Linked DNA regions of Homo sapiens: all the other regions are linked to region 5. Evidence: fine-mapped expression QTL. A gene starts in region 5. Each other region holds a variant in brackets. All regions are shown on one strand. Distances are from middle to middle. Region 1 overlaps PPFIBP2 (PPFIB scaffold protein 2). Region 2 overlaps PPFIBP2 (PPFIB scaffold protein 2). Region 3 holds the start of LOC283299 (a long non-coding RNA gene). Region 4 holds the start of LOC105376535 (a long non-coding RNA gene). Region 5 holds the start of CYB5R2 (cytochrome b5 reductase 2).

Region 1 (4,118 bases), 37 kb after region 5:
TTAGACATGATCAGACATACGGTCAAGACCCACAGTTTCCAAGTGGTAGTTCATGTGCCGGCTGCTCTTCATAATTACCTGGAGCACTTGTAAAACAACATGAATTCCCAGTGCCCAGTCCCTGATTCAGTCCCTCTGGAAGCACACCCCAGATGTCTATATTTTTAACAAGGATCTCAGATTATCTCAGATTATACTAATGCAGTCAGACCCAGGAACCACTGACTGTGAGAAGGTAGTGTTCAAAGATGTTAGAGACCTGAAGGGCATGACTCCAAGCTCCCTATTATATACGACATATGGAGGGGGGAAGAGCTCTCAAAAACGTGTTTCTGGTTGCATCATCACGCATGCTCCCTCAAGGCAGGGCAGAGACAGCCAAGGAAGCAAGTGGGCCACCCGGGGAGCTCCCTGAGGAGCTGAGATGCAAGGAGAACACATACCTAACCCAAGGATGGGGTTTAAAAGGCAGCCCCGACCTGTAAGAAAGACAGCAAAAAGGAATCAAGGACAATGGAAAGGGCTCTCTGAGCTCTGCTCAGGCCAAGAATAAGGGCTGGGAAGAAATGACTCACTGATGTGGAAGGCAGTGCAATGTCAAGACGTGACGCAGAGGAAACAAGGATGCTCAACTCCAGTTCTGTTTCTCCTGTCTCCAAAAAGAACAATCCTCCTGGCTGTAGGGGAACAGAAGCCCCAGCCAAGGGAGTAGTGTAGAACTGATTATCCAGCTGCTTTAAATTACAACAGAGAAGCAGCATGCCAGAGTGGAAAGGGCCTAGGCTTTGAGTCAGACCAACTCAGACAGAGCTGTTTCTCTTCCACCTCTCAGGACCTCTGGTCATTTCTAAATGGAGAATAACAATTCCTACCTCAGGTTTGCCAGGAAATAACATATCCACAGGGCCTAGCACACAGCGGACAGTGGATAAGGAGAAGCACAGGAAATATCACATACCCAGGGCCTAAAGAAATAGCAATCTAGAAGAGGAGTCCTTAGACCACGGCAGGCACTGGTCAGACTACATCTAGAATATCACACTCCAAGTCTGGTCCAGGGCAGAACTTGAAGAATACATTGAGAAACTAGCGCTGAGCCTAAGAAGACTAAGTAGCAGCTTAAAAGGCTTGTGATCCATGCACATGAGAAGGTGATGTTCAGCCCAGAGAACAGAGCACTCAGAGAGGGCATGAGGGACTTAAATTCCAGAGCTGTCAGGAGTAGGGGAGATTGACTTTTTCCATGGGCTAGATGTGGAGGGAGAGGATCAGCAGATGCACATTTTAGAGAAGCTCACACAGCTGCAAAAGAATACAAAGGATGTCTTCCAATGAAATGAGCTCTCAGTCACAGAAAGCAAGAGCCAGTTTAAGCAAGGGCCAGACACTACAGTTAGGGATGCTGCAGAAAGATGACTGTGGAGCGGTTCTGCACCTGTGTAGCTATTCTGGGGAGGACGGTGGTGTATGTGGGTGAGAGGGGAGGGTGGTCATGTTGAATAACTGAGGTTGTATAAGATTGTGATTATGGCCAAAACCATGTAAGAATTAATCTTTTAATCTGGAGCATTTTTTTCTTTATAAATAGTTCTACGTTACTTATATTTCTTGGTAATCAAATTGGCGTCTTAAACCTTGAGCCTGTGAGCTGGGTGTGTTTCCAAAGGAGCAGGTGGTCACTTACAGGTGTGCTTTAGAAACACCTGCGAATGACCTCTGTGACGCTGAGGTGGGAGGGGGGACTGCTGAGCGATTTAACAGCTGACGCCATAGGAAGCCTTTCAGTTCACAAAGGGACCACACCAACCCCAGGCTCAAGGGACTGTGTTGCAGAGCACCTGGGCAGGGGAGCAGGCAGAAGACTTTTGCTATACAGTTCAGATGGCCCAAGGAATGGCTGCCCACTTGAAGAACCAACTGCTACAAATATGGAAGAGTAGAGAAGCCCCTTATATAGATGCAGACGTGCAGAAAAGATCTTTCTCTTACGCAGATGTGGAGGAGCAGAGATGCCCCATTTTACCGTGAAAATATAAAATGACCCTCTCAGGCAGAAGTCAGCAAGCAATGAGAAGCTCCATGTTTCATATGGACATGGAGGCAGGGGACAGAGAAGGGAAATGCCATCAGCCTCACAATACATTTTCCATATAATGTTATAAATGGTGGTTGGGTGTGGCTGAAATCATGCTAATTATATGAATCTTCATTTCTTTATGGGCTCAACATTTTGTGCACTGGCCTAAAAACTTAATCCTCTTCCACAACAGGCTTCCCTGGAGAA[G/A]ATCAGTCCTAATGGAATTTTTATAACATAACTTGTTCATCAAAGCGGGACTGAGTGTACACTTGTGTTTTTTTAACCATGACATATCAGCACAGAAAGGATGAGAGCTGTCACGTTCTTCAGTGTGCTGAGATCGTAGCAATCCCCTTCCCAGTGATTAAATCTAGATTACTTTGTTAAAGATTAATTTCTCTGAGCCTATAAAATGGAGGTGATAATAATAAATCCTGTCCCACAGATAATGATAGCAAAAGCATATTAAATAGCTGAGTGCACATAAAAATAAAATGGGAGAGAAAAGTTGCGTCTTTCCTCTTGCCCTCTTACTCCTTACAGTTGGCACATTTTAAGGTTATGAAAACTATGACTTGCTAAATTAAAATACTAGCAAACAGTGTAACCACAAATAGACGACGGGGCACGAAGTCAATGTACCTTGGGTTCTAACACCGGGAAGGGCTGGTTCCCATCCATACACTATGGAGTAACATGAGGATTTCGTTTATGTGGAGAAAAAGAGACTTGTGTTATTCACAAACAGCAACAACTCAGGACTACCTGTTTGCTTAAATCTGAAAGGCGCATCCCCTCCCTCCACATCTTCATGTCAAGTAATCACCATCCAGGGCAGGAAAGATCCCTGTCCAACTCCATGGACAGATGTCCTGGGCAGCTGCCAGCAACATGACCATGGCAACCGAGAGACACGTGACCATGGGAGCAGAGCCACTGAATGATCCCAGGGCTCCTGCAGACTTCAGCCTTTATGGTTCTCCACTGTATCAACAAGGAGGCTGATGAACATTATTGGAGACCAAGGGATGGTATGCAGCACAGGCTCACTGAAGGGTCTCTATCAGGGCAGGCTCCCTTGGTCTCTAATGACCAAGCTCAAGAGCCTGCTACTGTCCCCTGCAGCATGAGGTCCACCCACATGATCAAGGGCTACTCCTATATAAGGAGCCACAAGACCCTCCTCCATCTTTCCAGACTCTTACAACAGCTCACTCTCCAACATCCTGACGATCCCACATCTTTCCTTGGGATCATCTCCTTTATTCACATTAATTCATCATTAAAAAAATCTATACGATGTCCCCAAGTGCCCCAGGGATATAGGACTAGTAGTCAAGATCTTCCCTGGCTTGATCTGTCTCATGGCTCTGACCTTACCTCCTCCTACTCTCCACCATCTTCCAAAACCTGCTATTGCTCAGCAGACTCTAACCAAGCTTTGCTGATCTCAACATCTTCTCTCATCAACTCCAGGCAACATTTCCTGAATTGTCCTTCCTCTAAGATGCTTTGGGCCACACCCAGTTAATTTTCTCAAAATGTTCATGTAATTCCTGCTTCCTCTACAACTTTATAAAATCCTCTACAAGGTAGGGACCAGGACCTGCCTGTATATCCCAGTACTATGCTAGGCCCAAAAAAGTAACTCAGTCATCTTTAAGGATAGGTTGATGAGCCGACCTTATCCACAGATTCACTTCTCAAGTCTTCTAGACTACAAGAGAGCTTTTTCTGAGCCCTGAAAAAAACACAAAAGAAAGAAATAGTTATGAGAAGGAGGTACATGTTATCACTCATGCAGAGGACATTTCAAATGCTTAACCGATGGTCTTGGGCTTAGGTTCAAAGTCAAGAAAAAAAAATACCCTCTCATAATAGCCTTTACATACAAAATGAGACTGGCCCACCTTGGGGGACAGACTGGTCCAATAATGTGTTAGTAAGGGCATGACAGGGTCACTTAAATCCAAATGAAATGTTCTTGGCATTGCACAAAAAGCCAGAATACACTCAATTCTGCTGCACTGAGGTGACAATT
Region 2 (4,118 bases), 24 kb after region 5:
TTAATAGGTCCCACCATGGTCCTCTGTGGAGTCAGCCCCGGTAAGTAACCCTGCCCCAGACGCATCACAACAATAGAAGGCCCTCAAGCTTAGTGACCCACCCCATCTGCCAGAGCACCAGCCTCCCCAGTTTCTAGGAAATAGAGCTCCCACTGAATCTTTGAAGATCTTCCACACTGAGATATCTGAATCCAGAATTCTGTTACTCCATCATTTTCCAGCTAACTTTGAGACAAATAAATGAGGACATTATAGTTATTCTTTCAGTGATTCAACAGAACTTTAAAGATGACTGTCAATTTTACAATCCAAGTGGTTTATAGATGAAAGATCTCCCTGGTGTGGCCAATGATTTTAGGGGAGCACACCTTAAGGTACTTATTCCTAAGTGCTCTCACGTAGCACTGTGGTCTTAAAAATGCACAGCGCTGTGCCTGACATATACAAGACATTCAAAACATGTTGGTTGAATAAGGAGAAAATAGGAGATAGACAGCAAAGGTAGCAGCCCAGGAAGCTGAGTTAATTTTACAGCAAGGTTAGACCTAGTTCCCAGGAACAGAGGAGATAGGATGTGACTGACAATCTTCAGTTTGGGGGTCCACCAAGAACTCCGAAGTTCATGGAACATAATCAGTTATTTCTTCAAGACTTGGGGTGCTGTTATTTACGTATACTATTTCTTCTCTAGCAAGACTACTCATGGATCCCCTGTACCTGGGCCTGGAAGTCAGTTAATTTTGGATCTACAAGTAGGGATACCTATTCTGAAATGTCTAGCTTCTACGGGCTCCTCTTCCCCCTCCTCTGTCTCTTCTCTTCTCTTCTACTGTGACACCCATCTTTCCATTTTGTCTTTCCCTCCCCCTCTCCTTTGCACCATCTCCTCATCTCCTTTAATCACTATGATGACTTTATAGCATGTGTCTCCCCAGTGGAGGGTGGGAGCTTAGAGGTCTATGGCTACTGTGAGACACAAAGTGCAGGTAACGGATGTTTGGGGCAACAGGAAGCACAAGCAAACAAAAGAATCCCAGGCACCATGGTGCAAAAAACAGTGCTTTTATGATGTCATTCTTGTTTGCTCATGCTCGATGTTTCAGGGGTCCTGGCTCAGGGCTACCTGGAGAGATACTATTTGTGGTCTCACCTCATCAGCTGGCCGCCGGTGCAGGCAGTGGGGGTTGAACTTGTTGACATGCAGCACGTGAATGGCACATTTGATGCTGAGATGATGTAGTTGGCTGGTGACTTTTAAGAAGAGTAAATCGTTCTGAAAGAGGAAAGTTTGGTTTATAAACCAGAGTTTCCAAAGTGACAAAAGACCCCTGATGTCCCTCACCAGACCAAGCATAGACAAGTCAACCACATCTCAGGAAGGTGCACGTGGAGACACCAATAGCTTATCACAGTGGTTTGTACTCTGCTACTTGGGACCTCTTTTGTGACAAATGATACTATTTCAAGGCCTTAAGAATATATGGAATCAAGTTTAAAATAACCACCATGGGTACACGTGAGCTGAGTGCTCACAGGGACAACTGAAATATTTAAAGAAAAAGTCCTCACCACAGTTAGGTATTGCAGCATTCGTCTGTCAACTCTAGATTCATGAAACTGGTCTTTGTACTGGGGTAAGCCAATATCATCAAGCCACCCTACAAATACAAAAACCCCAGATGTGTCAGGATTCATGAGAATGAGAGAATGTAGACACCAAAAAAAGGGGAGCAAATTATATTTTGAGGTTCGTTTTATTCCCCCAAAAGTTTAGTAATTCCTCTGCTTTTTACAAGGAGACAGCTGTCCTTGAGGTACCCATTTAACAGGAAAATTCTTTCTACTCTTAGTTGCTGCCAGAGACATTCTTAATACA[T/G]ATATGCCTATCCTTACTTGTCACCCAAATGTGGTCTAGCAGTGCAGACTTCTCCTCCTGTTTGGTGTTGATGGCTTTCACTGCTAAAACAAGCTTCTTCCTGTGGAGTGGGTGCTTAATTCCTAGCTCCTGAAATTAAAAGATGAAGACCACATGTGAAATTTTGGCAGGCAATTTGGCCCTCAGAGAAAGCTGTGTCTGGGTGGAGATGCTCTGAGTATGGCAGTGTATCTCCACACCGTGCCCTGGGATGCCAACCTGCAGCTACAGAGGAACTCTCAGCCTCCTCCATCCATCCTCCTGTGTGTATGTGTGACAGGAGTGGCGGACCCTGGCCTCCCCATGCTTTGGGGAGAAATGGGAGCCTCCTCTCCCCAAGCTGAGCCCTTACCTTTTCCATGTCCTGAGGGGTGGCTGTCAATAAGGTGTGGCCAGAAGATACCCACTGCCTGGCAAAGATCACATACTGAGCCAGGCCAAAGTCCTCCAGCCATGCACACACACGCTCTGTGCTCCACTGGGCAAAGGGGGCATTGGCGTCACTGGGAAGCAGGAAAACAGCATATTCCTGTTAGTGGGAGAGCCTGAGGTTCTGAATCTAATCATGTCTCACAAACAAAAGAAAAGAAAAGAAAAAACAAAACAAAAAACCTGTTTTTTAACAAACAACCTCCATCATGGGATTCTGCTGAACAAAATTCCACTACAACACACTCATAGGAGGTAGACCCTAGAGTTTTCTTAATAACACAAGATCTGAATTTCAAATCTCAGGCTACTTAGAGAATGGGGCAGCCTGTATGGCCCTCCTGAGATCATGTTCACATGTCCTAGGTCCGCATACACACATATACATGCCACAAGTCCAGAGCTGTGGCCTCATTAGGCGGAATCATCTTTTTAGGAAAATGCTTAGAAAACTACTTTTCTTAGCATTTAAGAGGGTCAGTTCTCTTAACATTAAAAAGAAAAAAAACAAAACACCCAAAACTAAAAGCAAAAACTTGCCAATCAACAACAGCTAGCACATTACTTATTAACAAAACAGGAGGAACATTCACATTAAAGTCAATAAAAGGACAATATATTTTTCATCAGTACTAACAACACTGGTCTGAGAGTCATAGCCAGTATTAGAGATAAATAAGAACAAGAAGTATAGCTATTAGGCAGAAATAAAGCCATTCTTTACAGATGTCAGGACTGCCCATTTAGAAAACCCAAGAAAGCTCAGTGAGGTGGCCACTTACGAAATACACATATAAACATATGTAACGTATGTTACATACAAAGATCAATAATTTTCTAATACCATCAATGCACAGATACTAATGCTACTGTTAAAACAATTTAAAAATCCCACTCATAGCAACCAACATTATAAAACGTCTAGGAATTGCCTTAACAAGAGATGTTTGGCCTTGTGTGATTATGTGTGGGGATTGCGGGGGTGGGGAGAGGTATTGACTGCAGCAGTCAACTGAGCTAGATAAAAAAGGACATGAATAAATGAAAAGCTAGATTATGTTCCTAGACAGGATGACTGGGTTTTATAAAGCCATCAATTCTTAAAGACATCCATTTTTCATTTAAAGTGTGAATAGCACACTAAAAATCCCAATAGAGTCATTTTTTTAGGGGGGATTCGACAGAGCAACTTTATGTTCATAAATGAGGATTTATAGAATATCGTAGATATTCCTTCAAAGACCAGAAAGATTCCTTCAAAGTACCCCTAACATATTAGATTAAAACATATTTTTTTAAATGCCTGGTTGAGCTGTTGTTAAAGTGAGGGAATTCCTCAAAGGATAAGCATGATAAGAATGCCCCATTTTAGATCAAATGTTAGAGATAATGTATACCCTGGGGCAGGGACTGATCAATCATAATCTGGAACCTGGGCTTTCATGGGTCCTGAAAATATTTTACGAGGCCTGGAACTTACAAACTTTCTCTTCAAAATAGTATAAAATTTGAATATACAATTAGAAACAAAGGGAATATTTAGAATTAGAAAACAAGCCACAAAAAATTGCAAGTTTTGCAAAACTGAAAAAAAAATCACAAAATCTAGAAATATTTCATTATATAAAATCTTGATGTACCTCTATAGTTTGATTCTTTTTTGAGACAGGGTATTTGTTATTTCAGAGATGGGGTATTTATTTTAGAGACAGGGTGTTAGTAATTAATTATTTTTAGAGATGGGGTCTGGCTTTGCTGCCCAGGCTGGAGTGTA
Region 3 (4,118 bases), 230 kb before region 5:
TGGCCAACATGGTGAAACACCGTCTCTACTAAAAATAAAAAAATTAGCTGGGTGTGGTGGCAGGCACCTGTAATCCCAGCTACTCAGGGGGCCAAGGCAGGAGAATCACTTGAACCCAGGACACAGAGGTTGCAGTGAGCTGAGATCGCACCATTGCACTACAGCCTAGGGGACAAGAGGGAGACTTTGTCAAAAAAAAAAAAGAAGAAGAAGAAAGAAACTCTAAACATTATTTCACTGTTTTCTAGTTCCAGTGTAGCAAAAATGAGATTTGCTTTTATTTCTGCTCTTTTTTATTTTGGGGTATAGCTTCCACCCCACTTCTGCTTTTTAATCTAAACTCCTATGAGTATTGGAGCTATCAGATCAATTCTCCATGTTTCCTATCTTTTTCATGATAATTTTTACTTCTCATTAATTTTACGTGAATTTCAATCAAATTCATTCTGTGAATTTCTAACTCATCATTTGGTATTCAGTGTTATCTATTTTGTTACTCCATTTCTCCACAGAGTTATTTTTAAAACCATTTTAAGATTTCCCCTATATTGTTTTAAAATTGATCTCTTTTTTTTTGAGAATATGCTCTTTTAAAAATCATTGAGTCTCTCTACAATGATAATGCATATTTTCAAGTTTTCTTCTCTTTCTTGCATTTAATCTGTTTCAGTCTAGGAATATTTGCTCCGGTCCCTTGCATTGATATGTCAACGGAAAGAAGAAAAAAAATCGAGGCAAACAATGTAAGTAGAGAGTTCATTTGGACTAAGCTTGAACACTGCAACGCAAGAGCGTAGATGCAAGTTAACCTGAATATACACCCCTATGAGCAGCAGTTACAAGTGGGTTTTAAAGGAAACAAAGAGGCAGTTCCCAAGTTGTTTACCAAGAATTTACATTAAAATAACATAAGCTATTGATTGGTTATACACTGTTCTTTGTATCACAAACTCCAGGAACATGAAGATAATGGGCAAAGCAGCTAGTCAGGAACAAAATGTCTTTAAACAGTTGGCCCTGGGTATGGGTGTGAGAGGTGTGATTGAGGTCCCATAACCATACTCATGTCTCTCTGGGCCTGACAAATTTTGTATGCTTCACATAACTTAGATGGCTCTGAGCAATTTTTTTTCTCATTTCCCACCTGTTGATCAAAAATCTTTCCATGGAAACATTAATGATCAATTTCTGCTTAGGTTAGAGTGATCAATATCCTTCCTCCTTCAGTTTGAGAAGGCTCATGATGGTGCTGTCTCACATGGGAAGGAGAGGTGAGGAAATGTTACAATGAGGAATTTTAAGACTGTCAAAAGCCAAATTGAGATGGCATCACAGGTGGCAAAAATGGCACCTCAGTCAAGTATGTAGTTGCTGTTGCTTGTTGAATCATTGTTAGTCTTCAGAATATCATGAGTTTAGTCTTTGTGGAAGAAGTAAAACAAGAGATATATGTAATGCATATAGGAATTATAATCAAAAAAAGAATTTGTATATCAGAACAACAACAACAAAACCTATTCTACTGGGGAGTCAACTAAAAATATCATGAAGGAAATTAAATCCAATTTCTTCTTTGGAGGATTGTTAGAGCTGGGACATTATTCAGAATTCAGTCCAAATTGTAGACAAATAGTAAAAACTAAAAAACAACTAAAAAACAATGGTCAGGGCTAGAATCTTATAAGAAGGATGGTATAGTTTCCTTCTAAAACAATTTTTTTCTCTCCCCAGTTCCCCATTCCTACCAAATATAAATGTTAGTAGGACAAATTTATTGGCTAAATAAGTTTTAGTATTATACTTGGCCTGATTATTTGCAAAATGTGCAACAAGAAGAATGATTGGCCATATAGGCTCTTTTCCATTGACTTTGCAGAATTTTTAATAAGAAATCTCAGATTACACTTTTAAAACCTCTAAAGACTAGTAAGCCAAGCCAGGGATTCACTGTGGGACTGCTTGTAACATATGTAAAAATTGAGTGAATTCCTAT[C/A]TTCTCAATGACCCAAAATATCTTGTGGTTCCTGGGTGCATCAGAAAATGACAGTCTTTACTTACCGCAAGCTGAGGAACCTTGTAAGAGAACCGTGTGGGCAAGGCATGAGGCCAGTCTTTCCCATGTCTATTGGCTTTATAAAGTCAGCCTCAATTCCTCAAAGCAGTTTGGTCACATTCAAAAATGTAACATTCCAGCCAAAGCCTTGGTAAAATAACCGGTGTATCCAATGTGTTCTGTTACAAAAGAAAACAGATTCTTATTGATCTTATGCAAATAACTATATTGCCACAAAATACAAATACTCATGAATAGTTTCCAAATTTTAGAGAAATCAGGTAGGGAGAAATGCAGATGTTTTAATTTTGCTCACAAAAGGTTACCCAGTTGCTGTAAGCTATAATTAGCTAAAAAGAGACATTTTCTTGACTCTGGAAAACAAAACATAAAATAATCAGCAATGTTTCAAAGAGAAAAGTTAAAGAAAGCATTTCCACCCTCTGTCAGGCTAGCCCCATGTATTTAATTATTATTCAGCTGGATGTTAGGTTAGTAATATTCATGAATGCATTCATTTTTTAAATTAGAGTTCTGAAAGTTTTCACTCAGTCCAATGATATGATGGGTGGAATCTAGCCACTGGGAGTATTTCCTTTCTGTGTGTGCTGCCAGTAGATGGAAGTGCAACAAAAGCCTGGCTGCCTCCCCGCACCCCCAGCAGAGCTGCCTACCTGCACCCCCAGGAGAGCTGCCTCCCTGCACTCCCGGCAGAGCTGCCCGGGCTTCTGAGTGTAAAAATAAAATAGAGGTTCCTCTTCAAAGAGACTTTCCTCCCCGTCTAATTAGGAATAAATAGTAACTTCTCTCAGAAACAAAATTTATTCAAAGACCTGTGCTAACATTCTTAGATATCTGCTAGCTATAATAAAGAAATCAATGTACTTTGTGTTCTTAGCTCCCACAATTTAGCCTAAATATTTGCCCTGGCATGCTTACACTGGTCCAAGCAAGTATTAAGTCATAGTCTGTTCCTCTTCCTTATTTGGAGGTGTTTTTACCTTTCTCAGCATTCCACAAGTTACTTCCTCCTTTGTTCTCCTCTGCCTTTGCCTCTTTTAAAAAGTTCTAAGTTGCTGGCTAATCAGGACAAATACAGAATGTGAGGTGCAGGGAGCTGAAGGCCCCTGGGAAGTGACCAACTCAGCATTTCGCTGGAGGCTATAGGATCAAACAGCAAACTGTTTATCATGAATGCAGGATGTGGGCAAACTCACACTGCCCTGCCACCAAAAGGTTTGTTGAGGGCCTCACTCCCTGGCGCTGGGCTCCTTGAAGTTATCTATTGAGAAGTCTAGCACCTAAGAATGCAGTCTTGCAAGCCTGCTGCGAATCAAGCTGCTGGCCAACAACCACTCCCCACCTTCTCACTATCTCTATTGCCTAATAAATATGGAGGGCAGTGTAAAGCTCAGGGCCCTTGTCCACTAGAGACAAGGTGCCCTCCGACCCCTTCTTCCAAATATACTCTTTTGCCTCTTGTCTTTTATTCCCGTGTTTGCCCCCTTTGTTCAGTCCCCCTAGGTCCATGCAGGTTACATAGTGGTGCCCCAAACAGTGACACAATTGGGTTCTCAACAAGTGGTGACTCAGAACAGGGACGCCAAGGATGCCAACAAGTGGCGTCTGAACACGGGACTTCGACGATGTGAACAAAAAAGATCTGCTGGAGCAGAGAAGCTGAAATTGACAAGGCAAACGGGGACCCCAGGATGAGTCTGCCGGCAGCATATATAAGGTCAGTGCTCTAAAGAGGTACTGGGAGCAGTGCTTTATAGAAGTGCTGGGAATGGGAAGCTTTCTGAATCAGGGTAGCAGGGGGAATAACTTGTCTGTTGAAGAAAAACATTATGTGCAGTTGCTTAAAGTTCTGTTGAGACAGTCTGGAGCTCAGGTTAATTCTCAGACACTAACCTCCTGCAGAAGCCACACAAAGTTATTATGCATAACTCATGGTTTCCACAGGCAGGCACTCTTGATGTGGAAAACTGGGATAGAGCAGGAGAAGGATTAAAACAGGCTCATCAAAAAGGTCTTGAAGTTGATTCTTCTGTTTTCTCCACTT
Region 4 (4,118 bases), 76 kb after region 5:
ATACTTTCATCATTTGAGATTTTTTTCCATCAGGCTATTTTCTTTCCTGGGTCTTCAAAAGAAAGATTCAATTAAAAAAAAAAAGCCTCAATTCCTTTTGCTAGTCAGATTTTTAGGAAATATTATGAACAAGAGAAATGGCACACAACCTAAGTAGAAAATCAAATGGCGCCAAGAATGTGGTAATTTATTAATCAGCAATGAAAAGATAACAAACAAAAGTTCCTGAATCATTGAAACGGGTTTTTATGAAGACATATATATAAAAACACTGACTTACATTTGTATAAAGTTCTTCAAAGGCACTCAAACAAAACTAACAAACACCAGATTAATTCTCATGACATTTGTCATGAGACCAAAGGTAAAATGCAAAGCCTGTGTTCACCAGTATGCTGTCAAGAAACAATCTGAGTCTTATGCTGATCATGACAATTAAAAAAAAAATGCTAGCGCTTTTGGAGGAAAGATTATAAGTAGTCCTCTAATTGAATCCACTCATTTTAAGGAACAAACTTTTGTTCTTTAAGTAATTGTGAGTACCTTTTATGTGCCAAGTACTATGCCAGGAGTTATAAGGCATACACACATAAACTTCAGTCATTGTTTAATTTTCAAGATAACTTAAAATGTAAGAATGACTTAAGGAAAATTTAAGATTAGATATATTAATACATTTCATTTAAAAACCTAATTCGCTTCTCAACAAATTCTGAAGTTTTGATACAATAAAAATTCAACACCCCTTCCTAAAAAATTGTAGCTCATTATTTATAATACAGTAAAAATATTTAGGAATTGAAAAAAAGTTAAGTCAATTCTGATACTTTTACTAAGAAAATCTATTATAGGTGATAGTAAAGATGACAATACAGCAAAAATTTTAAATGGGAAAAATATAATATTAAGCATACAAAATCTGAGGACTAAATTGCATATCTCTTGTGATTACAGATTTGGAAAGTACATGTACACATAACAAGGACAAAAAGAAAACAAGGAGAAGACATTATTTGAATGGTAGGGAACAGTTAAATATCTTTTTCCATTTTGATATCTATTAAATTATACTAAAAGGTTATTTATATAATATTTTTATTTTAAAAACTATATACAGTAGGAAGAGGCAGAGCGAGATGGGAAAGGGGCATAGAATCAGCTGAGAATTGACTTTCTAAAACTCCAGATGGCACCCACAGGATGAGGGTGAGGCCCCCAGCCGAGCGCTCCCTCACTGCACCAGGTCTGGAGAAAGTGCTGTCTGGGAATCTGTCTAACCAGCTCAGCAGGTTATTCATCTCAGGGCAGCCCTTCCCTTCCCTACCCCCTCTGCCACTCTCAACGTTCAGGTTGGTTTCACCTGCTGTATAAACACCGTACAACTGAGCAGCCAATCCCGCCCCCAGGCAGGATGGGAAAGCAGACAGCGAGGGCTGTAGCCTGGGCACACAAAGGGGCTTCAGCACATGAGCTGCTTCGGCACCCAAGGGCCTTCAGTGCACCCGCCCTTACCTGTTGAAGCATCTCTTCAGCAGCATTGAGTTTCACCTGGTGTCCTTCCAGACACACTTCCAGGTCTCGAATCTTTTCTCCCTGGGCTTCTACTTGGTCTGTGAGGACACTCACCTGTTCCAGGAAATAAAGCAATGGTGGAGGACCAGGGATTTGACATGGTGCAGGAAAGCCTCCCCACCTCAGGGGAGCCGTTAAATCTCACCACTGACTCTTACACACAGTGAACGATTTTGATTTTTGCTGAGTGGCAGGTGGAGGAAGTGTCCTGAACGAAGGCAGCTGCAGTTAGATTCTTACCTTACCAGGGAGTCTCGGCCACTGCTCTGATGACATGGGTCACGTTTACTGCTCTTGATAGACTCAAGAGTAAAACACCCAACAGCCACAGGAGCTGCCTCTGGGCTGGACTCCTGCTCCTTATTCCTCTTCCAGAACAGCCCCGACCTCAAGGCACATCTCAGCTGGCTTGCCAGCACTTCTGCAACCTCGTGTGGAAGAGCGGTCCAAACTTCATGGAAACTAACCAATGACCTTACCTCTCTCATAAGGGTGTGAGGACTGCTCACCTATCAGGTGAGTGTTTTGATGCAATTAAGGAATGTGGGCTGTAAAGGGCATGTATTAGCACTGACAAAACTTGGCTCCAGAAAGGTTATTGTGCTTCACAGGCCAAAACATGACTCTAAGTCATAAATATAGAGAAGCCACATTACACATACGGTGGCAGAAAAAAAGTCATCTTTCTGAAGAACGCTGAGAATCCCTATTAAAAATATTAATTAGTAAAAACTCATTTACAGGAAGTCATTCAAATTATGCACTAACTATATATTAACAATGGTTTTCATAGCCTTCTCTATTAGCAAAC[G/T]GCCCCAGGATCCTTTTTCTTTATTAAGAGATGGTTCAAAGCAAGAAGAGAGAGAATGAGTGTCCTCCCCAAAGTGAAGAAATTAGCAGTTGATAAACTGAGATCCTTTAGACCTTTTTGGTTAGAGTTGTTGCCATTTACATATAGATTATCCAGAATTATTTCTCAGTCTGAAATGGAATAATAGATGGTGCATGAGTTGATGTGAATTCATTTATGAGTGTTTAGATAAACTTTCTGAATTATAAAGCGCCTGTTTAAAAAGGAACTAATCTAAATTAATATGCCTACTTTAAGATCTCCATTTTTATTTTCCCAAATGATTAATGAATTATTGAAACATATTCCTGGAGTTGACACATGGTTAACATTCCACTTTTAACCAAAAAAAATGTTAAAAAAAAAAAAAAAAACAAGAACGGGCTCTTTCTATCAACTTGGTCCACCTTACACGCAAACCTTTGTGGGTGGGTGTTTATTAATCCCTGTGGCCCAACACTCTCAGCCATCCTGAACTAACTCTACTTTCAAAAGGGCAGGACTCTGGGGGTGGGCTTTGCTCACTGGAATCCAGAGTTTCTGTTTGTGAAGGATGTTTTCTGGTTAATCTTATTATGAGGGTTAAACATTTCTATGGTCTATACCATGCCTTGAGGCCATGTGTTGGTGATACTCAAGGAATCATAGGATCTCTAGCATTCTATAGCTAATTGTTCAGCTCCAGGGGCTTTCTGAACCTCAACGCTGATTCTAAGTATTACAAATGAAGGGATGTAGGAAATCCAGACAAAATACATAAAGGTCATAAAATGTGACCTTTGTTCACTAAAAACAACTATTTTTGAGACCCTAATAGATGCTAGGCATAATTTTAGGTACTGGAGGATACAGAAGTTAAAAAAAAAAAAAAAGGATAAAAATCCTTTTCCTAAGGAGTTACATTATAATGAAGATACAAGAGATTCTGGTTTTGTTTTTAACTAATCCTAGAAACAAAGTATTTTGTTATGTGTGATTTGCCTTGTTCTATGAGTAGAACCAGGAAAACTTTCTGGGCCAAGGACTCTAAATTAATTCAGTCTGGCTAAGCTGCTGTGTGCATTAAGCAAGAGGCTCTACCCTGCTGAGAATCTGCCTAACCAGCTCCACTGCAGAACAGCAGTGATCACTTAACAGACACTCCTGGAGTCTGCCCATAAGCTCCCAGTAGAGTAGAAACTACTAGGGTCAACTTCTGACTTTACTGGCAAGCAGCTTCCCAATTGTGTTAGGATTATTTAAATGGGGATTATTCAAGAATTTGGAATTTTAGAAAACTATGAATGTGAAAGGGAGCATTATTACACAGGACTTTGAAAAATTAAATTGTAATCCTCTGTAAATAGGAATGTGCTATTTCAATCATGAAGGGTCCTGGTTCAAAAGTTTGCAATTTCATACTGTTTGCTGCAAAATCTTACATTGGATACTCTTTCATTAATCATGTCATTGGGATAAGAGTTTCAAATTACACATCCCTCAAACATCTGTGCTACAATGTGCTATTCAATCTGGCCCTTGCTACCTTTCTAAAGGCAGCTCGCACCACCCTTTTGAGCACAGACTGCAGGCACAATGGCCACTTGCTGTTCTTCCCACACCCCAAGCACACTCTTGCCTCAGTGTGTGGGCTGGACTGACTGCCTGCTCTGCCTGGAATGCACTTCTCCAGGTATCTGCATGGCTCCCTCCTTGG
Region 5 (4,118 bases):
AGGTGCTCAAACTTATTAGCAGTTATTAGGTAATGCAAATTGGATTCCTGATACATCATTTTACACTTATCGCATTGTCAAAAATTAAAATATCTGCCTATAATAACCAAGCACCTGCAGGTAAATCAAAAGTAAAGGCATTTGATTAAGTCAAAGAGAGAAAATTAAGTTTGTTTATTCATTCACACAGCAAGAATTTTTGAGCCTGTGGTGGTGTGTGTCTTGGGGAGAAGGGTTGGTAAAGTGTTATGGGTTATTGTTTTCACCCTGATTCTTATGTTGAAGCCCTAAGCCCCAGTACCTAAGGATATGACCTTATTTGAAGGTAGAGCCTTTACATAGGTAATCAAGTTAAAACAAGGTCATTAGGATGGACCCTAATTGAATATGACTGGTGTCTTCATAAAAGGGGAAATTTGGACACAGGGACACACACAGAGGGATGAAAATGTGGAGACATAGGAAGAAGATGCCCCTTCTCCTAGCCCCTCTCCTACAAACCTAGGAGAGGCATGGAACAGATCCTTCCCTCACAGCCCTCAGAAGGAACCCACTCTGCCCACACCTTGATTTTGGACTTCCAGCCCCCAGACCTGCGAGACAATAAATTTTTGTTGTTTAAGCCGCTCAGTCTGCGGCACTTTGTTACAGCAGCCCTAGCAGAGTCAAACAGGTGGGGATCTGCTTCTGGGCTTCTCTGTTTCACACAGGTCCTGAGGCAAGAATTTGCCTTTGCCTGTAATCAAGGGCGAGCCGGGCAGCCAAGGTTCCGAAACGCACCGTGAAGACCCTCTAACTGTGCCTACTATTCTGCTCCCCTCCGATCGGCGCGGGGCTCTTGTCCTTCCTCTCTCCACCCAGCGAATGAATGAACGCAGGAGCGCTCGGAGTACACGTCTTCAACTCGGCGACGCCCCTGCTTCGGCCCCACCCCGCAAACACCCGCCCCGGACCAGGCCCAGGGTAGGCGCCCATGAGGTATGTCGAATGAATATATTCGCGCGCTCTTTGCAGCTGCCTGAATTCTTCCTTCCCCAGCATCCCCCTCCGCCCGGTCACCCAGACGGCCTTCTCCAGCCTTGCCGAGCTTAAGTAAGCTGAGGGGCGCTCAGTGTGGCAGCTCTGCGTGTGCAGGGAAGGGGCCAGGATGCAGAGGGGCAGCGCAGGAGCGAGGACGCCACGGCTCAGCGCCCCGCCAGCCTCATGATGGAGCGCTGCCCTGGGGGCAGGGCTGACCCAGAGCCAGCGGCTCGTGAGTGAGAGCCCCCCGACCACGGCCCTTCTCGGGGAGCGGGCCAGCCGCCGGGGTCCCAGCCTGCGGGGTCCGCCCGCGCTTTTGTCCTCCCGGGCGTGCGTGTCCGGGTCTCGGCCGGTTCCCCGTCGGCCAGGCGGAGCTGCGGGGCGACGCCACGAGTCTGCGGGCCCGCGGCGGGGAGCGGCCCCCGGCCAACCCCAGTTCGACGACGTGTTGGGCGTCTCACTCCGGGTGGGTTCCGCGGCGGGGTGTATTTATGGAGTATTGAAGAAATATCTCCGTCGGGACGGCCGGAAGGAAAGAGGCCAGAGGCGCGGAGGCCGGCTAGAGCCGGGAACGAACGTCCGACCGGGAGGTTGGGGGCCGGAGCGGGAGGCGTGGGGAGAGGTCGTGGGCGGGACCGCGAAGGGCGGGGAGTGGGGCGGGCCGGCTCGGATTCCGGAAGGCTGAGACTCCAGTGACCCGGCGGGAGGAGAGGCAACTTTCCCTGTCGGGCTTGAGTTGGGAGAGGAGCAGGGCGGCCTTGTAGGGTAGGGACAGATGCGGGGAGGCTCCCGAGTCTCTGGCAGTTGAGTGCCCAGGCCCCCTTCGCCCTGTCCAGGAGACTGTTGGGGAGTCCCCAGGCCCTAAGTCACGGGGCACCTCTTAGAGCTACGCACCCTAGTTCTGTCTTTAGGGACTGGGCCCCTCATTCCGGATTGTGTGTTAGGGGTGATGTCCTCCCCCTTCACCTCAAGGAAGGGACTTCCAGTGTATGAACCTTTGGCTGTAGCCAGGAGGGGCCTAGTGACCTGAGCACCCCAGGCCATGTGTGCTGCCTGCTCCAGGGGCCTGAAACATCCTTCCTGTGTGACCTGCAGCTGACCCCTCCCTACCCTCTGGTCCACGACAGGCTCTCCCAGCCGCCTTCTGTGTCACTACTGTTCTCTTTGCCTATTTCCTGCAGGCAGAGCTCAGCTCCTGTGCCTTTGGTGTGGGGAGGGTGTTCTGCGCCTGAGAGCTGCCCTGTCCAGGGCGGGCAAGACCTGAGGTGCTCTGTTCACATTGTGTCTGCCAGGACCCGTCCCTGCTCCTGACCATCACCGTCACTGGGGTCACTGTGCTCGTGTTGGTCCTGAAGAGCATGAACTCCAGGAGGAGAGAGCCAATCACCTTACAGGACCCTGAAGCCAAGTACCCGCTGCCCTTGATTGAGAAAGAGGTAATGGGTCAGCCCTGTGGGTGGAAGGCAGTAAGTGGATGATGGCTGGGATGGCAGGGCATCCAGACAGTCATCTCATGGCCTCCAGTTCACTCCCCGCCGCCCTGTGTGTGTGTGTGTGTGTGCTGGAATAGCGCCAAACGGACCTCCTTTCCCAGGCATCTCAGCTGCCCAGCAAGGCTTCTAGAAAGCTGACAGAACCTGCCTATGTTTTGTTTTATCAGAAAATCAGCCACAACACCCGGAGGTTCCGCTTTGGACTGCCTTCGCCGGACCATGTCTTAGGGCTTCCTGTAGGTGAGCCGGGCTTGGGTCATCACCAGGACTGGGGCCTCTGGGGGCTAGGCCCTCCTCTCTTAACAGAAACACAGGTTTCCCACGTCCTGAGGTGTGGAAGATGCCCTCTTGCTCCTCCTGAGCCTGTGAGCTCAGGGAGATAGATAGGGGGATGGATGTGGGACAGAAAATTTCTTTTCTTCATTATTCCAATTGGGCTGACACGAGAGTGGTACCTCAGTGAGCATTGAAAAGAACTGAACCTAGAGCCAAAAGGCCTAAAATCTCATGGAAGGCTCCTTGCTGGGGAACTTAAGGGAAGTCCTTCAATCTCTCTGAGCCTCAGTCTATGAAATGGGATTTCCCAGGCCTGCCTGTCTACCTCACTTGGGTTGTTGTGAAAGTAGAGTGACTGATGGATATGAAAATTCAGAAACTACAAAGTATTGTGCACCTGGGAGGGATGGGAGGAACCAGTGGTCGGGGAAAGGCCCAGAATGTGCGGGTAGGCAGGAATGAGTCAGGTGTGCCCTGCCCCCAAGGTCACTTAGATTCTCTGCAGGGGCCTCAGACCCACATAAGGAGGGACCAGCCCTACGAGTTGCAGATTCCAGCCCTAGGAGTCCTAGAGTTGAGTTATCCCATTTCTAATCTGTAACACCACTAGATAGCTGAGTCAGTCTTAGTGCAGTAGAAAACTGCTAGAATCAGGGATTCAGAGCAGCTTTGTATAATCTGCTAGTGCTGCTTGCCTGCCTGGTGGATCCTACTCCGTGGCCTATTTGTCTTATATGCACAGGCCAAAACCTTGACCTCAGCTCTATCAGGTGGTGAGATTACACTCTAGCCAGCTCGCTGGGCCCCTGAGCCTCCTTGCTGTTCCCTCACTCCATCTCTATGCACGAGAGCTCAGTGTTGTGCGTGCCGTCTCTCAGCTCCCTGCTCGGCCTGTCAGGCAGGTCCTGTTGGCAGGAAGCCTAAAAGAATGAAAAACTTTGAGATAGAGAATTGCTTAGAAACTGCCTTGACCCACTATCTCCTCAGCCTTGGCCTAGGCCGTGCAAAGTTAGTGGGACAAGGTAATGTAGAGGCCTCTGGGAGAGTCTAATATGAGGCCTCAGAGTTCGCTGCTTCGTCCCAGCCCAGTGGAAGTGAAGCAAGTTAGAGATGGGGCTTGAAGGACCAGCCAGGGAGCCCCATTTGCCCTGGGGACACCCTCAGGCCAGGCCTAGGTGGCTGCATATGAAAGAGCCTTTCCAGGTTTCCAGTTTCAGGTTCTCAGAAGGAAGCTAGGTGTCTCACTTACTCCTGGCTATCCCTGGTGCCCAGAGGGACCATGACCAGAGTCATTGAGCCTGTTCTGAGCCCAGAGTGTTGGCACCTCAA

Evidence for each region. PIP is the estimated chance that this variant, and not a neighbour inherited with it, causes the effect.
Region 1: its variant is fine-mapped to the expression of CYB5R2 in sun-exposed skin (GTEx, PIP above 0.99).
Region 2: its variant is fine-mapped to the expression of CYB5R2 in whole blood (TOPMed, PIP above 0.99).
Region 3: its variant is fine-mapped to the expression of CYB5R2 in lung (GTEx, PIP 0.98).
Region 4: its variant is fine-mapped to the expression of CYB5R2 in blood mononuclear cells (TOPMed, PIP 0.97).

The regions. Positions count from the first base shown.
Region 1 is chr11:7,634,195-7,638,312 of GRCh38, reverse strand. PPFIBP2 (PPFIB scaffold protein 2) reads right to left here. Exons shown (of 24, transcript NM_003621.5): 13 at 3,761-3,818; 14 at 2,720-2,761. Among named protein-coding and RNA genes, the nearest start is that of CYB5R2, 37 kb to the left of the region's middle. The variant G/A (reference allele first, on the strand shown) is at 2,285.
Region 2 is chr11:7,646,687-7,650,804 of GRCh38, reverse strand. It overlaps PPFIBP2 (PPFIB scaffold protein 2), which reads right to left. Exons shown (of 24, transcript NM_003621.5): 18 at 2,268-2,418; 19 at 1,894-2,005; 20 at 1,570-1,658; 21 at 1,151-1,273. Among named protein-coding and RNA genes, the nearest start is that of CYB5R2, 25 kb to the left of the region's middle. The variant T/G (reference allele first, on the strand shown) is at 1,877.
Region 3 is chr11:7,905,276-7,909,393 of GRCh38, reverse strand. LOC283299 (a long non-coding RNA gene) reads left to right here and starts at 3,439. Exons shown (of 8, transcript NR_036678.1): 1 at 3,439-3,791. It overlaps LOC107984307 (a long non-coding RNA gene), which reads right to left and starts at 3,072. Exons shown (of 3, transcript XR_001748116.2): 1 at 2,728-3,072; 2 at 2,059-2,232. RefSeq lists enhancers at 1,175-1,718, 2,807-3,350, 3,351-3,894, 2,696-3,895. The variant C/A (reference allele first, on the strand shown) is at 1,994.
Region 4 is chr11:7,595,068-7,599,185 of GRCh38, reverse strand. PPFIBP2 (PPFIB scaffold protein 2) reads right to left here. Exons shown (of 24, transcript NM_003621.5): 5 at 1,513-1,626. LOC105376535 (a long non-coding RNA gene) reads left to right here and starts at 2,006. Exons shown (of 4, transcript XR_007062579.1): 1 at 2,006-2,088. The variant G/T (reference allele first, on the strand shown) is at 2,384.
Region 5 is chr11:7,671,086-7,675,203 of GRCh38, reverse strand. It overlaps CYB5R2 (cytochrome b5 reductase 2), which reads left to right and starts at 1,704. Exons shown (of 9, transcript NM_016229.5): 1 at 1,704-1,785; 2 at 2,313-2,456; 3 at 2,681-2,753. The coding sequence starts at 2,379. RefSeq lists a silencer at 1,192-1,401 and enhancers at 1,922-2,021, 2,042-2,091.